Linked DNA regions of Homo sapiens. The protein of the gene in region 3 binds, or shares a complex with, the protein of the main gene of each other region. Links are inferred from orthologs where the notes say so. Each region holds a gene or a part of one and is shown on either strand. Other genes may lie near its edges.

Evidence for each region.
Region 1: ODAD1 (region 3) and CLXN share a complex: the UniProt entries of both Homo sapiens proteins name them as parts of the outer dynein arm-docking complex.
Region 2: the proteins of ODAD1 (region 3) and ODAD3 are in contact, whole or in part, in a cryo-EM structure (PDB 9CPB), measured with the Bos taurus proteins. The link is inferred for Homo sapiens from one-to-one orthologs. Residues at the interface, in XP_024834988.1 of Bos taurus: Leu31, Gln32, Gln34, Cys35, Met38, Glu41, Arg42, Tyr45, Val49, Arg52, Ile53, Gln56, Leu57, Glu59, Ile60, Leu63, Glu64, Val66, Arg67, Leu70, Arg71, Gln73, Ile74, Ala77, Gln78, Asp86, Arg89, Leu90, Ser92, Met93; in NP_001095517.1 of Bos taurus: Gln69, Leu73, Lys76, Ile77, Leu79, Leu80, Asp83, Arg84, Phe87, Tyr88, Thr91, Asn94, Ile95, Asn98, Gln99, Thr101, Ile102, Leu105, Arg106, Glu108, Thr109, Leu112, Gln113, Gln115, Leu116, Leu119, Gly122, Asp123, Val126, Ala129.

The regions. Positions count from the first base shown.
Region 1 is NC_000008.11:48,725,269-48,732,308, reverse strand, and holds part of CLXN (calaxin), read left to right. Parts: intron 1-805; coding exon 806-961; intron 962-1,664; coding exon 1,665-1,769; intron 1,770-2,437; coding exon 2,438-2,589; intron 2,590-3,162; coding exon 3,163-3,267; intron 3,268-7,040. UniProt on the Homo sapiens protein: Component of the outer dynein arm-docking complex (ODA-DC) that mediates outer dynein arms (ODA) binding onto the doublet microtubule. Seems to regulate the assembly of both ODAs and their axonemal docking complex onto ciliary microtubules.
Region 2 is NC_000019.10:11,420,105-11,425,161, reverse strand, and holds the end of ODAD3 (outer dynein arm-docking complex subunit 3), read left to right. Parts: intron 1-1,132; coding exon 1,133-1,285; intron 1,286-2,300; coding exon 2,301-2,461; intron 2,462-2,534; coding exon 2,535-2,691; intron 2,692-3,329; coding exon 3,330-3,485; intron 3,486-3,949; coding exon 3,950-4,034; intron 4,035-4,214; coding exon 4,215-4,327; 3' UTR 4,328-4,557; downstream 4,558-5,057. UniProt on the Homo sapiens protein: Component of the outer dynein arm-docking complex (ODA-DC) that mediates outer dynein arms (ODA) binding onto the doublet microtubule. Involved in mediating assembly of both ODAs and their axonemal docking complex onto ciliary microtubules.
Region 3 is NC_000019.10:48,297,972-48,305,011, reverse strand, and holds part of ODAD1 (outer dynein arm-docking complex subunit 1), read left to right. Parts: intron 1-871; coding exon 872-1,059; intron 1,060-1,227; coding exon 1,228-1,362; intron 1,363-1,916; coding exon 1,917-1,999; intron 2,000-2,149; coding exon 2,150-2,318; intron 2,319-6,671; coding exon 6,672-6,835; intron 6,836-6,914; coding exon 6,915-7,012; intron 7,013-7,040. UniProt on the Homo sapiens protein: Component of the outer dynein arm-docking complex (ODA-DC) that mediates outer dynein arms (ODA) binding onto the doublet microtubule. Involved in mediating assembly of both ODAs and their axonemal docking complex onto ciliary microtubules.

The sequences.
Region 1 (7,040 bases), on a different chromosome or scaffold from region 3:
CTGGTTTCAAAATAAATTTTCCCCAACTTCCGCCCATACTTGGTATTTGAGCTTTTATATTATCAAGACCAGGCAATAACCCTTCCACCTACATTCTCAAATGGGGATTGGAACACAAATAATTAACTCGGTATTTATAACCATGGTCCTTTATACAATAATGTGTATGAGCAAGTATCTGTTTGTGTGTATATCCTTTAAATAAAAATTTCCTTCCTCCAAACTATTACTGAATAGTTGCATGTTAATTTTTACGTAATCCTCAAGAAGAGCCATATTGGGTGCTAAAATATGCTTTAAAGCTTTTTTATTGGAAAACTGGTGACTCTAGTTTCCAAAATCTGGCTTATGAATTAATGAAGGCTAAACTGAAATGAAAATTGTTACCTAATTCTCATGAATCTGACATCTATTTCCAGGGAAAAGAAGTTGTAAATCTCGTAAATGCCATGGTAAAAATACTGAGAAAAAGTTACCATTCTTTAGTCTTACCATTCTTATTTTGAGACGTATTTCTACTAGCCTTGTAGAGTTTAGAATCCGACACCACCATCATTATTCTAGTAACTTGGCTAATACTATCGTATTTTTTTCCCTAAACATGGGAATTCCTGTTTGGAGGGTATGCTGCTTTTTTTATTTCTATTAAGTTAAGGGTTCATGAATCTCAAAACAGGAGAGTCTTCTATTGACAATTACCTATTTGATGTCTTTGACGTTGTTTGTCTGTAAACTTATTGCAAAATTTAAGTTAGAACTTAAAGATTAAGGGTTCATTTTTGTTATATCTATTTTATTATTTCAGTTAATAAATTTGAAGTGAACTGTCTTATAAAGCTTTTTTATGACTTGGTGGGAGGAGTAGAGAGGCAAGGTCTGGTTGTTGGACTGGATCGTAATGCATTTCGAAACATCCTGCATGTGACATTTGGAATGACAGATGACATGATTATGGACAGAGGTAAGAGACACACAAGATTCAAATTAGCCAAATCCAGCCATAACTGAAAAAAAAAGGGTTTGGTGCTTGGACATCCTCTTGGTAGGAAGCTTAGTGTTTTGCATTCCCAGTGTCATTGGAATATACAAATTTAATTTTGAGAAGATCATAGAAAAGGAGGTAATATTGGCTTTATTTTGTGTATTTAAGAAGAAGACAAAGTCATGTTGACATCTTTCTCTTACCTTATATCAGAAAACCTAAAACATTTCGATTTCCACTTAATAAACATAATAAATAGAATAGTTTTAAAAGGACATTTACATTCTTTACATCATAGAAGATATTTCAGTGACAAGATATAATTCTATGCATCAAGTAATGACTTGAGTAACAAAACTATTAAGTATTTTATTTATATTCATATATTTATCTAATATGACCAACATATTTTATAGCAACATATTTATTATTAAATAATGATTAATATACTTAGACATTGAGAATTGTATTTGTTCCCACAAAAACATTTTAAAAATTGAATGTTTAATAAAAGAGTTTCATGATATTATGATGTCTTAGTTTCCTCTTTCGTCAAATGAGAATATTGGACTTCACAAGCTGAAGTGTTCTCTTAATTTTAAAAGTGAGTGATGCCAATGTAGATACTTTACTGAGAGTTATTATGCAGGACAGGTGTTCCATTTAACCTCTCTCCCTTTAGTATTCCGAGGTTTTGATAAAGATAATGATGGCTGTGTAAATGTATTGGAGTGGATTCATGGATTATCACTGTTTCTTCGAGGATCTTTGGAAGAAAAAATGAAATGTAAGATTGCAGGTTGTCCTATTGGTTCGTACATTATGAATAACATATCTAAAGCACTTAAATCAGTGTCTTTCAACCAAGACAGTAAAGTGGGTTTGTTGGTTGGCTGGTTAGTTGGTTTGAATCCCACTAACCTATTTTATGGAATGAATTCAAGTCAATAAAATATGAAAGAAAGTTAATAAAAAGAAAACTCAAGTGATTCTGAGGAGTAATTTATGCGAAGGAAGACACCATAGGCATTACTACATATGCTAATTATGTACATATACATTTATATGTTAAGCATTTGACAGATTTCATTACTTGAATTGTAACCATAAAACTAGAGAATATTGATTCAAGTGTTCTTATTCTTAATTAACTCTCAATTAATTCTGATGAACTCTGCTTATGAGCCATATTTCAATCAGTTTTCCAAGAGTTTCAAGGTGAAGATATTCAAGTTACTGTTCCTTGGTATGCTTTTTCATAATTGAGAATCAGGAAATATTTTCTAAGGATTATTGTATATATCCTAGTATACGTTGACACTTACAATGCAAATCAGGCTGCACTAAGACCTGTGGGTACAGCATCAAGATAGAACTTGGCCCTGAAAAGTTTATCAGAGAAAATATTACCTTACTGATAGCATCAAATTCATGATTTGTTATTTTCTTAAAAAGATTGCTTTGAAGTGTTTGATTTGAATGGTGACGGATTCATTTCAAAGGAGGAAATGTTTCACATGTTGAAGAACAGCCTTCTCAAACAGCCATCTGAGGAAGACCCTGATGAAGGAATTAAAGATTTGGTTGAAATAACACTGAAGAAAATGGTAAATATGGGTAATGTCAAGTTTTTTATTAAAATTTGTGGGCCAGATATGGGCTAGAAATAAGAATTCAAATTATTATAATTTTCAGTTCTCTGCTTGCTTAAATAAAACACATAAATTATGCTCCTCAACATATTAATAGTTCTTTTCAGTTTCACCACCTAACCTCTTATTTTTCTAGCACTTTTTTTTTTTTTGAGACAGGGTCTCGCTCTGTCTCCCAGACTAGAGTGCAGTAGCATGATCACAGCTCACTGCATCATCAAACTCTTGGGCTCAAGCAATTCTCCTGCCTCAGCCTCCCAAGTATCTGGGACTACAGGCGCATACCACCATGCCCAGCTAATTTTTTTTTTTAATAGAGATGAGGTCTCACTATGTTGCCCAGTATGGTCTCAAACTTCTGGCCTCAAGGAATCACCCCGCCTTAGCCTCCCAAAGTGCTATGATTACAGGCCTGAGCCACCATCCCCAGCCTAGCACATTTTTTTAAATTAACACTTGACTATGAAAAGAGCATGTATTTGCAGTAATCATTTTACGTGTTGCCTAACATGTTTCTCATTCCCCTAGGATCATGACCATGATGGGAAGCTGTCTTTTGCAGACTATGAACTGGCTGTGAGAGAAGAGACTCTTCTACTGGAGGCCTTTGGGCCATGTCTTCCTGATCCAAAGGTATTGATATGACTTTCCCTGAACGGTAATCAAAGTAGAATGTAGAACAACCCAGGACTTCTTGATTTAATGGGTAGTGGATCAGACAAATCCTGTCCACCAAGAAAGAATACCTTTTAAATACAGAAAGCCCACTGAATAACCTGCTGATTCATTTCTTGGTACTAGTGTGACCCAGTGCTGTGTTTCATTCATTAACTCATTCATGTCAGAAACAATTAATGAGGTTTAATGTGTGCCAGAAGCACAGATGAAAGGCTCAGTGATTTTACTCAAGGGCTCATATTTTCCAGTGAAAATAATTACACAAGAGTATGATACATATTATTATAATGATACTTAATTACTTGTATGTTCTTCATCAATGCCAGGCAACGTTGTAAACACTAAGCCTCATATTGCCTCATTTAATCCTCATAATAACCCTGTGAAGTAGGTAGTAATATTAGCCTCATTTTCCAGATGAGGAAACCAAGGCTTGGAGAGTTTAGGCACCTTGTCCAAGTTTACTCACTTATTAGTGGAATACCCTGGGTACCCTGGTGCCAGAGTCATAGAGATATGTGTAGAGTGTTGTGGAACTTGAGAAGAGGTCATCTAAACAGCTGTATGGGAGGACTGGTAAATGACTGGTAGGGCAGGAAGCTTATCAGAGTAACTGGTTTTCAAAGGACAAAATAGCCAGGTCAGATGGGGAAAAATAATCTGAGCAATGGGTGATGTATGCACAAAAGAGAGACAGAGAGAGATAGAGAGAGAGAAAGAAAGAGATGGAACAAGAGATGCAAATGCATCTGCACTGGACGAGGTTTTGGTGTGCTCTGAGGCTGGTGATGAGGCTGCAGAAGCACAGCTTGTGGAGCTTGGAGCTCAGATTTAGTCTTGAAGGTGATGAGGCATCCCTGGAAGATTGAGGCAGGCAGTGTGATGTGATATAGAAACAGTATCACTCTTCCCAGCCCTAGCATGTGTCTCCTGCCGCCTACTCAACATGTCCACTTAGATCTCCTCAACACATTTTTGACTTTTCCCCAAAACTCACCCATCCCCCAGTCTTCCCTATCTCAATAAGTGGCAACCACATACGCCCAGTTGTTCAGTCAAAACCTAGGGGCCATCTTTAATTTCTCTCTTTTAACACTGTTAGCTACACCTCCAAAATATGTCCTTGAATATAGCCTCTTCTCCTCACATCTGTTTGCCACCACTCTAAGTTAAGCCACTGTTATATGTTACCTAGCCTAGATTGTTAGCTTTCTGGCTTCCACTGTCATCCCCTACTGACTTTTCTCAACAATGTCCAGTATGTTTAAAATGCAAATGCTGCCAGGCCCCTCCCATGCTCAAAACCCCCCAGAGGGTTCTGAAGTGGACCCAGTGGGCCATTTCCCTCTCTCCACCCACATGTCCTATCATCTCCCTTCTCTCTTGCTGCTGGAGCCACAGCCTCTGGCTCATGTGCCTCCTCCATGCCTGTGCACTTGCTGCTGCCTCTGTCCAGAAGCCCTTTCCCCAGACCCTCCTGGGCCTCATTTTCTCACTTCATCCAGTCTCTGCTGCAATGCCACTTCCTCACAGAGCCCTGTCTTGACCATCTTAACAATCTTCCCTGTTCATCCCCCAGCCCTTCTTTCTTTCTTTTACTTAGCAGCTCTTTTTATTACCTAGGTATATCTGTCTCGCCTTGTACATGTCAGCTCACTGAGGCCAGGAACTTAGTCTTTGTTTCACTGTGTTTCCCCATACCCTGTGTGTAGCACATGGTGTGTGTCTAGTAATGAGAGATGGATGGATGGATGGATGGATGGATGGATGGATGGATGGATGAGTGGATAGATGAATGGGTGAGGTGGATGGGTGGGTGGGTGGGTGGATGGATGGATGGATGGAAGGATGGATGGGTGATGTGGGTGTGTGGGTGGGTAGATGGATGGGTGAATGGGTGAATGGATGAATGGATAGTTGAGGTGAGTGGGTAGATGGATGGATGGGTGTGTGGATGGATGAATGGATGGATGGATGGATGGATGGATGGATGGATGGATGAGTGGATGGATGAGGTGGGTGGATAGGTGAAGTGGGTGATTGGTTATATGGATGGTTGGATGCGTGGGTGGGTGAATGGATGGGTGGGTGGATAGATAGATAGATAGATAGATAGATAGATAGATTGATAGATGCATGGATAGATGGGTGGATGCATGGATGGACAATGGATGGATGGATGGATGGATGGATGATGAACTGGGTTGATGGGTGAGGTGGGTGGGTAAGTGGGTAGATGGATGGATGGATGGGTGAGGTGAGTAGATGGATGGGTGAGGTAGGTAGGTGTGTGGGTAGATGGATGGGTGGATGGATGGATGGATGCATGGATGGATGAGGTGGGTGGATGGGTGAGGTGGGTGGGTGGGTAGATGGATGGGTAGATAAAAAGATGAGTGGGTGGGTGGATGGACGGATGGATGGTGAGGTGAATGTGCGGGTAGGTAGATGGATGGATAGATGGGTGGATGGATGGATTGGATGGATGGATGGATGGATGGATGGATGGATGAATGGATGGATGAGATGGATTGATGGGTGAGGTAGGTGGGTGGGTAGATGGATGAGTGGATGGATGGATGAGGTGAGCAGATGGATGGGTGAGGTAGGTGAATAGATGGATGGGCAGATGAAATGATGAGTGGGTGGATGGGTGGATGGATGAGGTGAATGGCTGTGTAGGTACATGGATGGATAGGTGGGTGGATGGATGGATGGATGGATGGATAGATAGATGATGGATGGTTGGATGGATGGATGGATGGATGGATGAAGTGAATGGGAGGGTGGGTAGATAGATGGATGGATGAGTGGATGGATGGGTGGATGGGGTGGGTGGGTGGATGGATGGATGGATGGATGGATGGATGGATGGATGGATGGAGTGGGTGGGTAGATGGATGGGTGGATGGATGGATGGATGGGTGAGGTGGGTGGATGGGCGAGGTAGGTGGGTGGGTAGATGGATGGGTGGATGGATTAATGGATGAGGTGGATGGATGGTGAGGTGGGTGGGTGGGTCTCAGAAGTGCCTGATGGGGAGCTCTGGATCTCTCCATCTCCTCAGGAGCTATTTCATTCATTTACCTTTATCTTTATACCACATCTTCAATCTCTTCCCTCTCTAGTGAAACCTTCCGATTAGAATTTTATTATTTATTTATTTATTTATTTATTTATTTATTTATTTTTGAGACGGAGTTTTGCTCTTGTTGCCCAGGCTGCAGTGCAATGGCACAATCTCGGCTCACCGCAACCTCCGCCTCCCAGGTTCAAGTGATTCTCCTGCCTCAGCCTCCCGACTAGCTGGGATTAGAGGCATGCGCCACCACGCCCGGATAATTTTATATTTTTTAGTAGAGACGTGGTTTCTCCATGTTGGTCAGGCTGGTCTCGAACTCCCGACCTCAAGTGATCAGCTTGCCTCGGCTTCCTAAAGTGCTGGGATTACAGGCATGAGCCACCATGCCTGGCTCCCATTAGAATTTTAAAAGATTCAAAACTGTCCCATCTGAAAAGCAAAATGAAAGAATGAGAGGAAGAAGGAAAGAAAAGGAGAGAACTTACCTTAATTTCACACTTATTACTTCTGTTTCTTATATAATGGCTTTCCTTCTTAAAACCTAGCTTCTTGAAAGAATTGTCCAGATTTAATATCTAACTACTATCACTTCTTCCTATCTACCCCTGAATCTGCTATTGCAAGGTCACCCTCCCACCTTGTGAAT
Region 2 (5,057 bases), about 37 Mb from region 3:
TGTATATATACATATGTACATATACACATATACACATATGTACATATACACATATATACATATATACACATATGTACATATACACATATACATATATACACATATACACATATATACACATATGTATATATGCACATATGTATATATACACATATATACATATACACATATGTACATATACACATATATACATATATACACATATGTACATATACACATATATACATATATACACATAGGTACATATACACATATATACATATATACACATAGGTATATATACACATATATACATATATACACATAGGTATATATACACATATATACATATATACACATAGGTATATATACACATATATACATATATACACATAGGTATATATACACATATATACATATATACACATAGGTATATATACACATATATACATATATACACATAGGTATATATACACATATATACATATATACACATAGGTATATATACACATATATACATATATACACATAGGTATATATACACATATATACATATATACACATAGGTATATATACACATATATATTTATACACATAGGTATATATACACATATATACATATATACACATAGGTATATATACACATATATACATATATACATATATATACATATATACATATATATATGGATTTTTTTTTGAGACACGGTCTCTGTCGCTCAGACTAATTATAGCTCACTGCAGTCTCGACCTCCTGGGCTCAAGTGATCCTCTCACCTCAGCCTCCCAAGTAGCTGGGACTTCAGGCGCCCCACCACGCCCTGCTAATTTTGGTGTTTTTTGTAGAGACGGGGTCTCGCCGTGTTGTCCAAGCTGGTCCCGAACCCCTGGGCTCAAACAATCCTCCCGCCTCAGCCTCCTAAAGTACTGGAATTAAAGGCGTGAGCCACAGCCACCGCCCCCGCGCCCGACCTTGTCCCACTTTCTTGACACCTGCCCGGGTGCCTTTATCTGGCCCCAAGCTTTTGCCCTCTCCCTTCCCTCCAGTTTGAGCCCTGTTCCTCGCGGGCCCCTATCTGGATCCCCCTCCCCGGCCTCCTTCCCAAGCGCTGTCCACCAGCTGACCCTGGCTCTGACCTCAACCCACGAGCAGACCCACCGCGAGCACCTGCTGCTACAGTCCGACGACACCATCCAGGACAGCCTGCATGCCAAGGAGGAGGAGCTGCGGCAGCGCTGGAGCATGTACCAGATGGAGGTGATCTTTGGCAAGGTCAAGGACGCCACTGGCACTGACGAGACGCACGTGAGTTCTGCCCGCAGCCCTCTCCGCCGCGCCCCCCCCCCACCCCAGACGGGCCCCAGGGGTGCCTAAGCCGGTGAAACCGACACACCCTGTCTCCCCTCTCTGCCAGGTCGGTTATTCAGCTCACAAACCTGCTCCTTTCTTGAAAAACATCCCTTCCCCCTCCAGCTACCGTTCAGTTTTTCTGCTGCCCTTCGCAGCAAAACCCCTAGGAGCTGTCTACACTCGCCGTCATTTCTACACTCGCCTTCCGTTCTCTCTTGCACCATGCTAACTCCTTTGCCATGCCAGCTCTAGGAGAACTGGGAGTTTCGTCTCTTGTTCTGTCTCCAGTGTCTGTAACATGGTCTGGGACCCAGTGGACCGCCCAGTACCATCCTCAGATCCTGGCAAGTGGGGTCCCTGCGCCGGGTCCCTCACTGTAAAGTCTTCCTTGCATTATTCTAAGACCGCTGTGTCCCCCTTGGGTCCTGGTTCCCGCCGGTGAACACTGGACCCCAACCCTGTTTCTCCCCTCTGGGTGTCCGCCAACCTGCTGCTCCTCCGATGGGGCCGACCCCTGATGACTTCCGGGACTCCCACCTATAGGAGTACACCTATGGGGTCATCTGGGGCACTGAGGCGCAGCCCCTTTCCAGATGTGGGCCTTGTGAGCGGATGGCTCCGAAGACGGGCGGTATTTCCTGCGGAATCGGGCGAGATTCACGGCCAGAAATTGATGGCACTTTGATTTTGGAAAGAAGCTATGCTCGCCTCTCCAGTTGCCCCCGAGTTTGGGCTGACTCAAATTCCTTATATAGGCCAGAAAGGGCCCCGCAAAAATGATATATCCAGGGCTGCTCACCCTTGAAGCAACCCTGCGTCCAACCCACAGTGTCCCCATACATTGCTGTGCAAAAGGCGCCAGCTCAGGCCACCTGTCCTGCGTGCGAGGGTTCGCAGGGTGGGGGAGAGGAGGTGGAGCGCCCCTACGCTCCCTAGGCCCTGGCTCTGACTGGGGCTGGGTGGCCCGCAGTCGTTGGTGCGGCGGTTCCTGGCCCAGGGCGACACCTTCGCGCAGTTGGAGACGCTCAAGAGCGAGAACGAGCAGACGTTGGTGAGGCTGAAGCAGGAGAAGCAACAACTGCAGCGGGAGCTGGAAGACCTCAAGTACTCGGGGGAGGCCACGCTGGTGAGGTGAGGCACCGGGGCTCTGGGGAGGGCGGCGGGGCGGGCTGAGCCCCCGGGGTGACCTCCCGGCTCCCTGCAGCCAGCAGAAACTGCAAGCCGAGGCGCAGGAGCGTCTCAAGAAGGAGGAGCGGCGGCACGCCGAGGCCAAGGACCAGCTGGAGCGCGCCTTGCGGGCGATGCAAGTGGCCAAGGACAGCCTGGAGCACCTGGCCAGCAAGCTGATCCACATCACTGTGGTAGGCCCCGCCCAGGGGAAGCCCCGACAGGCCCTCCTGGGACCGCAGAGGCGCAGCCACGAAGCGGGGTTCCTGCCACACCAGCTTGCCCGAGGGAACGTGGCCTGCCACATCCTCTGTCCCGGACGTCAGAGGCCCCGCCCACAGGGGAAGCCCCACCCCATTCCTCAGAGTCCCCGCCCCACCTCCCTGGGGAAGCTCTCACTCCCCAAGGAAGCCCAAGACGTCAGAGACCCTGTCCCGTCTCAAGCTCCGCCTCCAAGGGAAAGAAGTCCCACCCTGTCCCCGAAAAGCTCGGAGACCTATCTGCAGTTCTGGAGCAGCCCGAGACAGAAGACCTATCCTGCCCGCAGCAGAGGGCCATTTCTTCAGGAGGCCATCCCACAATGGCCTCCCTCGAATCCTTACTGTTCCCAAGAGGCCTCCCCGAAACCTTTACATATAGAGTTAGAGTTCAGAGGCTCCCCCATCACAGACGTGGCCTTGACCTAAGTCCCCGCCCCCAATGGCTAGGATCGACCCTGCAGGTGGGCCCTTACCTCCTAGGCCCCGCCCCCGAAAGAAAAGCCCCGCCCCTGGGTGGAGCCTTCCAAGAGGCCCCACCCCTCTCGGCTGACCCGGCTCTACCCTGGCCGCAGGAGGACGGCCGCTTCGCGGGAAAGGAGCTGGATCCCCAGGCAGATAACTATGTGCCAAACCTGCTGGGCCTCGTGGAGGAAAAGCTGCTGAAACTGCAGGCGCAGCTCCAGGGCCACGACGTGCAGGAGATGCTGTGCCACATCGCTAACCGCGAGGTGCCCTGCAGCCATGGGGCAGAGCTCCAGAGATCTAGGAGTAGGGCTGGGTCGGAAAACCAGGGAACCGGGGGCAACTTCGGGAGACCAGATTGCAGGCTGATCAGCCAGGAAGGGGTCTCGGGGACAACGGGCGAGGTTTGACGAGCCAGGGGTGAGCCCGAGCCACGAGGGAAGAAACCAGAAGAGGTGCAGGCGGGTCCTGTGAGGCTAGAGGACGCGGCTGGGGTATCCGGATGGGGAGAGGCCTAGTGGCAGGGCCCCAGAGACCAGGGGCGGACCTGAGTGATGAGGGGGTGAAGCTGGGTATCAAGGTGCCTGCTTAAGGAGGGATGGGAGTGGGCAGTGGTCTCCAGTTGGAACTAGGGCATATCTCGGAATGGGGTAGGGAGGAGGGGGAACGTGACTTCTCGGTGGCCCCTGGCCCCGCCCACCTTCCTCTCTCGCTTCCCATCCCCGCTTAGTTCCTCGCCAGCTTAGAGGGAAGGCTGCCCGAATACAACACCCGCATCGCCCTGCCCCTTGCCACTTCCAAGGACAAGTTTTTTGGTCAGTATGGGTGGGGGGATGAAGGGGTGCGGTTGGGGCCCCAAGCTGGGTAGCAGGAGGTTGTCAGATACCCTGTTCAGGGCCAAGGTGGGGGTGGAGTGGGGTGGTAAAGGGAAGGGGAGCCAGGGATGGGGACCTGGATCCCACATCGCTCCCTGCTCATCCCCCCACCCCCCTTAGACGAAGAGAGTGAGGAGGAGGACAACGAGGTAGTGACCCGCGCATCACTCAAGATCCGTTCCCAGAAATTAATCGAAAGTCACAAGAAGCACCGTCGCTCTCGGAGGTCCTAGACTCGTCCTGACACCCACCAGGCGGCCCCCTTCGGAGCCCCCGATCCCTCCGGGTCTAGCGCAGGCCCCACGGGGCCCCTTCAGGGGCTGAACGCGGCCCGGACCGGGAACGGAGGCGGCCAGCGGCGCCCGGAGGGGAGGAAGGGGCCGGGCCAGACGTTCCCACAGTAAATCTCCCCAGCTGGGTCCGCCCCGGCCTCAGAGTTGCGCAATAAATGTTACCGACCATGCCCCTGGGTATTCATCTGTTTTTGACCCTGCACCACCCAAGAGACGGCTGTCCCTGAAAACCCAGGGCCACAGACTGCCTCCTCCAACCTGGGTCATGATGACTCCCATCAGCTAGTGACGCAGATGGAGCTTAAAAATGGGAGATGGCCCGATGTAGTGGTTTTATGCCTGTAATCCCAGTATTTTGGGAGGCTGAGTTGGGAGGATCACTTGAGTCCAGGAGCTCCAGGCTGCAGTGAGCTATGATCGTGCTACTGCACTCCAGCCTGGGCCACAGAGCCAGACCCTGTCTCAATAAATAAAATAAGGGCGGGGTGCAGTGGCTCATTCATACCTATATTCCCAGCACTTTGGGAGGCTGAGCTGGGTGTGTCGCTTGAGCCCAGGGGTTCCAGACTAGCCTGGGCAACATGGTGAAAACCAGTTTTTACCAAAAAAAAAAAAAAAAAAAAAAAAAAAAAAAAAAAAGCTGAGCATGGTGGCATATGCCTGTAGTCCC
Region 3 (7,040 bases):
GTGGCAAAATTCACCATTTTAAAGCGTAGAATGTAGCAGCATTTAGTACATTCACGGGGCCGTGCAACCGCACCACTTCTGTCTAGATCTGAAATATTTCCATCACTCCAAAAGGAAAACTACCTGCCACCGGGAAGTACAGGAATCCTCGCTTTTTAGTCTTACTTGGGAGAAAGAATTCTGCCAAGAGACTGATTTAGCCAACAAAGAGAATTTACTGAAGGCAAATAGAGAACAGAGAGTTTACCTAGAGAGAGACAGTACACTCTGAAGGATGAGGAGAGCAGGCTGCTGAAAGAACGTGAGCCAGCAGCACACCGAGAGTTTTGTGTTGTGTTTCTAATATGATGTCGCACTCTTTTGAAGTTCTTGCTTCTGTCTTTTTTTTTTTTTTGAGACAGTTTCGCTCTTGCCACCCAGGCTGGAGTGCAGTGGTGCGATCTCAGCTCACTGCAATCTTCACCTCCCAGGTTCAAGCGATTCTCTTGCCTCAGCCTCCCAAGTAGTTGGGATTACAGGCATGCACCACCAGGTCTGGCTAATTTTTGTATTTTTAGTAGAGATGGAGTTTCACCATGTTGGCCAGGCTGGTTTCAAACTCCTGACTGCAGGTGATCCTCCTGCCTCCCAAAGTGCTGGGATTACAGCCTGAGCCACCGTGCCCAGCCAGTTCTCTGCTTTTTGTGACCACAGGATAACTGCAACCTGATTCAGCCCCATTCCTGTGACCCCAGGCTGGCCCTGCCCATCTGGGACACCAGCTGACTCCACCTCACCCCCCACAACCTCTGGCTGACCCCGCCCATCCCCAGGACCCCAGGCCGACCCCAGTCCAGCCTCCAGTCATCCTGACCCCGGCTGACCCCCGCAGGGAGGAGGCGAAGGCCAAGATGGGCTTGCTGCGGGAGCGCGCGGAGAAAGAGGAGGCCCAGAGCGAGATGGAGGCGCAGGTCCTGCAGCGGCAGATCTTGCACCTGGAGCAGCTGCACCACTTCCTCAAGCTCAAGAACAACGACCGGCAGCCGGATCCCGATGTCCTGGAGAAGCGTGAAAAGCAGGGTGAGGCTGGGGCTGCTGCCTTTGCATCTCAAGGGCCTGGCCGCCCCTGGGGCACCTGCAGCACACCTTCGTGCCCCAGGTGGGACCACACTTCGCTCCCCCTCACCCAGGAGGTCTCTGTGTTGGAGGCCACCCAGGAGGCCGACCTGCTGTTCTCTCTTCCCCTAGCCGGGGAGGTGGCCGAGGGCGTCTGGAAGACCTCCCAGGAGAGGCTGGTGCTTTGCTACGAGGACGCCCTGAATAAACTGTCCCAGCTGATGGGGGAGAGTGACCCTGACCTGTTGGTGCAGAAGTATCTGGAGAGTGAGTGGGGCCCTGGGTGGAGGGAGGAGGCCCGGGACCCCGGCACCCCCTGAGTCCAGTGCAGGCTGGCCTCAGCTCTGGCCCTGGGGAACTCCTCCATCTGTGCTGGAGGAACAAGGCGTCATGCCTGGGACCCGCCGCCCGCGTCCACTGGCGTCTTACCGTGGCCCTGTCTCTGCCCCTCCCCACCCCCTCCTAACTCCTGGGCCTGGGGTCACTCTCCACATCCTTCCCTCAACCCTGTCCCTCTCTGTTTCTCTCCTTACCCATATCTACCGTTCTCCCCGCCTGCATCTCCCCATCTCCCTTGCTATTGCCGAGTCTCTGGCTTTCCCTCTCTGCCTTGCTGTGTATTTCTGTGTCCCACCTGCCGTATCTTCCCACACCTCTTTGTCTCTGTGACTCCTCTCTGTTCGTCTCTCTGCCTTGGTTTCTGTGTGGCCTTCCTCATCTTCACTTTCTTTGGCCTTCTGTATGCCTCTCTGTCTCTGTTCTCTCTGTCTCTGTTTCTCTGTCTCCCTCTCTCTGGGCCCCGCCTTGCCCAACTCTCCCAGTCGAGGAGCGCAACTTTGCTGAGTTCAACTTCATCAACGAGCAGAACTTGGAGCTGGAGCATGTGCAGGAAGAGATCAAGGAGGTGAGTGAGGCCTGCCCTCTCCATCTCCTCCTCTCCTCCCGGCCTCCCCGCCCCCTTCCCTCCCTCAGCCTGCCTCCTGCTTCTTCCTAGCTCCACACCCCCAACTCCCGAGGCTGCCATCTGGCCCAGCATTCAGCCCTGTCCCCACAGATGCAGGAGGCTTTGGTGAGCGCACGTGCCAGCAAGGATGACCAGCATTTGCTGCAGGAGCAGCAGCAGAAGGTGTTGCAGCAGCGCATGGACAAGGTGCACTCGGAGGCTGAGCGCCTTGAGGCCCGCTTCCAGGATGTGCGGGGACAGCTGGAGAAGCTCAAGGCTGGTGAGCACCCATGGGCGCCCCCTCCCGAGCCTGGCTTCTCCACTTGGAAGGACACCATCAGCCCGCGGGGCTTGGAGGCATTGCATGGACAACCTGGTTCACTTGCTTATCAGTTGCCCCATATCTGTCCATCTTTCCAACCAGGGTCTATCCCTCCAACTGTCCCATGTCCATCTATCCATCCATCATCTGTCCCTCCAACTGTCCTACACCCATCCATCCATCCATCTATCAATGCATCCATCCATCCATCTAGGGTTGATCCCTCCAACTGTCCCATATCCATCCATCCATCCATCCATCCATCCATCCATCCATCCATCCATTCAACGTCTGTCTCTCCAATTATCCTATATCCATCCATCCATTCAGAGTCTATCCCTTCAACTGTCCTATATCCATCATCCATTCAGGATCTATTCCTTCATCTGTCCTATATCTATCTCTCCATCCAGGGTCTATCCCTCCATTCTGTCCCATATCCATCTATCTATCCAGGGTCTGTTCCTTCATCTGTTCTATATCTATCTACCCATCCAGGACCTACCCCTCCATCTGTCCTATATCCATCCATCCATTCATCCATCCATCCATCCATTCATCCACCCATCCATCCATCCATCCAGGGTCTATTCCTCCAACTGTCCTGTATCCATCATTCATCCAGGATCTATTCCTTCATCTGTCCTATATCTATCTCTCCATCCAGGTTCTATACCTCCATCTGTCCCATATCCATCTATCTATCCAGGGTCTATTCCTTCATCTGTCCCATATCTATCCATCCAGGATCTACCCCTTCATCTGTCCTATATCCATCTGTCCGTATATCCATCCATCCATCCATCCATCCATCCATCCATCCATCCATCCATCCAGGATCTATTCCTCCAACTGTCCCATGTCCATCCATCCATGCAGGGTCTATCCCTCCAACTGTCCCATGTCCATCCATCCATCCAGGGTCTATCCCTCCATCTGTCCCATGTCCATCAATCCATCCATTGTCTATCTGTCCATCTGCCTCCAACAGCCCCACATCCATCTGTTCATCCATCTATCTGCAATGACATTTGACTTTTGTCTTCCTAGTCTTAGTCTTAGTTACCAAATTTCTTCTTAGTCTTAGTTACCAAATTTCTTCTTAGTCTTAGTTACCAAAAATGTTATTATTTGTAAAGAAAATGATGATAAAATATAATAGCAATGTTTATTATGTGTCATTCACTGTGCAAGGCACTTATGCATTATTCCACTTGTTTCACAAAACACTAAAAAACAGATGCTGTCCCTCCAACTGTCCCATATCCATCATCCACCCATCCATCCATCTACCCAGTATTCATCCATGGATCATCCATGTACATCTCTGTCTATAAATGCCTAGCAGTGGGACCGATGGGTCTTAGGGTAGGTATATGTTGATATTTATTAGAAAATGCCGAACAGTTTTCCACACTGGTCGCAAGATTTTATGCTCTCACCTATGCGAGCATATGGGAGTCCCCGATGATCCACACCTTTTCCACCACTTCCTAGTGTCAGCCATTTTTTATCTTGTTTTGTTTTTGAGATGCAGTCTTGCTCTGTCACCAGGCTGGAGTGCAATGGCATGATCTCGGCTCACTGCAACCTCCGCTTCCTGGGTTCAAGCGATTCTCCTGCCTCAGCCTCTCCAGTAGCTGGGACTACAGGTGTGCGCCACCACGCCCAGCTAATTTTTGTATTTTTAGTAGAGTCGGGGTTTCATCACGTTGGCTAGGATGGTCTCGATCTCTTGACCTCGTGATCTGCCCGCCTCGGCCTCCCAAAGTGCTGGGATTACAGGCGTGAGCCCCCGTGCCTGGCCGTCAGCCATTTTAATATTAGCCATCTAACGTGTGTGCCGTACTCTCTCTATTAATTTAATTGGCATTTCCCTGGTGACTAATAATATTGAGCATCGTATTGGCCATTCAGATGTTTTTGTAAAGTTCCTGTTCAATCTTGTGCACTTGTTTTTTTAAAAATTGGGTTTGTCTTGCTATAACTGAGTTGAAGGAGTTCTTTGTATATTCTAGATACTAGACTTTTGGTAAATATTTTCTCTTATACTGTAGCTTGCCTTTTCATTTTTTTTGGTGATGAACTGAAGTTTCTTAGTTTTGAGGATATCTAATTTATGAAATTTTCTTTTTGTAGTTAATGACTTTGTGGCCTGCCTAAGAAATTTTTGCCTGTCCTGAGGTTACAAAGGCATTATGCTGTGTTTTCTCCTAGAAGTTTCATTGTTTGAACTCCCACATTGAAGTCTGTGACTTATGACAAATTGATTTGCATTATGGTATGAGGTAGGGGTCTAGAGTTTCCTTTTTAAAAATTTTTTTAGATTTTTTTCATTTATTTATTTTTTGAGAGGAATTTCGCTCTTTTGCCCAGGCTGGAGTGCAGTGGCACAATCTCGGCTCACTGCAACCTCTGCCACCCAGGTTCAAGCAGTTCTGCCTCAGCCTCCTGAGTTGCTGGGATTACAGGTGCCCGCCACCACGCCCAACTAATTTTGGTATTTTTAGTAGAGACGGGGTTTCGCCATGTTGGCAGGCTGGTCTCAAACTCCTGACCTCAGGTGATCTGCCCGCCTCAGTATCCCAAAGTGCTGGGATTACATATGCATGAGCCACTGTGCCCGGCCCTTTTTTTTTTTAGAGATAGGATTTTACTATGTTGTCCAGGCTAGTCTTGAACTCCTGGACTCAAGTGATCCTCCTGTCTTGGACTCCCAAAGTGCTGGGATTATAGGCATGAGCCACCACTCCTGGCTGAGTTTCTTTTTTTTTTTTTTAATCCCTTCTGTGGGTATGTTGCATCCACCTGTGCATCCTTTTTTTCTATTATTATTATTATTTTTTAAAATTTGAGAAAGTCTCGCTCTGTTCCCCAGGTTGGAGTGCAGTGGCACGATCTCGGCTCACTGCAATCTCCCCCTCCTGGTTCAAGCGATTCTCCTGCCTCAGCCTCCCAGTAGCTGGGATTACAGGCACACACCACCACACCCAGCTAATTTTTGTATTTTTAGTGGAGGGGGGTTTTGCCATGTTGGTCAGGCTGGTCTCAAACTCCTGACTTGAGGTGATCCACCCGCCTTGGCTTCCCAAAGTGCTGGGATTACAGGTGTGAGCCACTGCGCCGGGCCTCATCTTTCTTATTTTTCAGGAAGTAGCCATGCAGAGCACTCAGGAGTCAGGCTGTCCTGTTTCTTTTCTCTTTTTTAAAACATTTATTGTTAGCTTTTATTTGTTTTTTTGAGATGGAATCTCACGCTGTCAGCCAGGCTGGAGAGCAGTGGTGTGATCTGGGCTTACTGCAACGTCCATCTCCCGGGTTCAAGCAATTCTCCTGCCTCAGCCTCTCCAGTAACTGGGATTACAGGCCTGCACTACCATGCCCGGCTAGTTTTTTTGTATTTTTAGTAGAGACAGGGTTTCACCATGGTGGCCAGGCTGGTCTCAAACTCCTGACCTCAAATGATCTGCCTGCCTTGGCTTCCCAAAGTGCTGGATTACAGGCGTGAGCCACTGCACCCAGCCTGTCCTGGGTTTGAATCTCAGCTCCACCAATTGTGAACCTTGGTGTGTGGCTTCCTCCTTCCGCTCTGGGAATGGGGATGGCAGTGCCTACTTTGCAGGGTTGTCATGAGAATTAGAAGGGATGACGGATGGAGAGAAAGGTGGGGGGTGGTGGGGAGCGAGCTGGAGAGCCTCCTCGGGGCATACCGTAGGAGCTCAGATATGGGCAGGTCCTCCTTCCTGCTGTCGTGATGGCTGATCCGAGCCCTGTGCTAGGTGATGTGGGCACAGTGGGGAGAGGCCCTGGAGGGGACTGACCTGCGCACTGGGCACTCATCACTCAGGGGCTAGGACAGAGGACGCCCAGGCACTGGGGGCGAGAGAAGGCCCTAACTCAGTCTGGGGTGCAAGACCATAATTTGTGGGGCCCAGTGCAGAATGAGGGGCCCCTTGTTAAAAAATTGCTGAGATTTTCAAGATAGGAAGAGCAGCAGCGTGTCAAGCCAAGTGCAGGCCCCTCACCACTGCCTGGATCTCACACTCATGAGGCTGGCTCTGCTGGGGTCACTGGGAAGGCTTCCTGGAGGCAGTGACACTTGAGGCTGACTTTGAAGGACAAGTCAGGGAGAGAGGGATGCACAGCAGTGCCGTCCCCCTGCCTGGCTGGCTGAGCTCGGGTGACTCCCTTTTGGTCTCTGAGCCTTGACCGCAGTCTCTGTAGAATGGGGCAGTGAGGACCTGAGTGGGGAGAGGGCTGGCACCCAGCTGGCGGTGCCAGATCCCTGACAACCGGCCCTCCATGACGCAGATATCCAGCTCCTCTTCACCAAGGCCCATTGCGACAGCAGCATGATCGATGACCTCCTTGGGGTCAAGACCAGCATGGGAGACCGGGACATGGGCCTCTTCCTGAGCCTCATTGAGAAGCGGCTGGTGGAGCTCCTGACAGTGCAGGCCTTCCTACATGCCCAGGTGGGAGACGGCAGGGAGCCGGGACAGGAGGCCGGTCTCGGGGGTGGCCCAGCTGACCGCAGGCTCCCACACTCTCCAGAGCTTCACCTCCCTGGCCGACGCTGCCCTCCTAGTGCTGGGCCAGAGCCTGGAGGACCTTCCGAAGAAGATGGCCCCACTTCAGCCCCCTGACACTCTGTGAGGCGCAGGGCAGGAGGGACGCAGA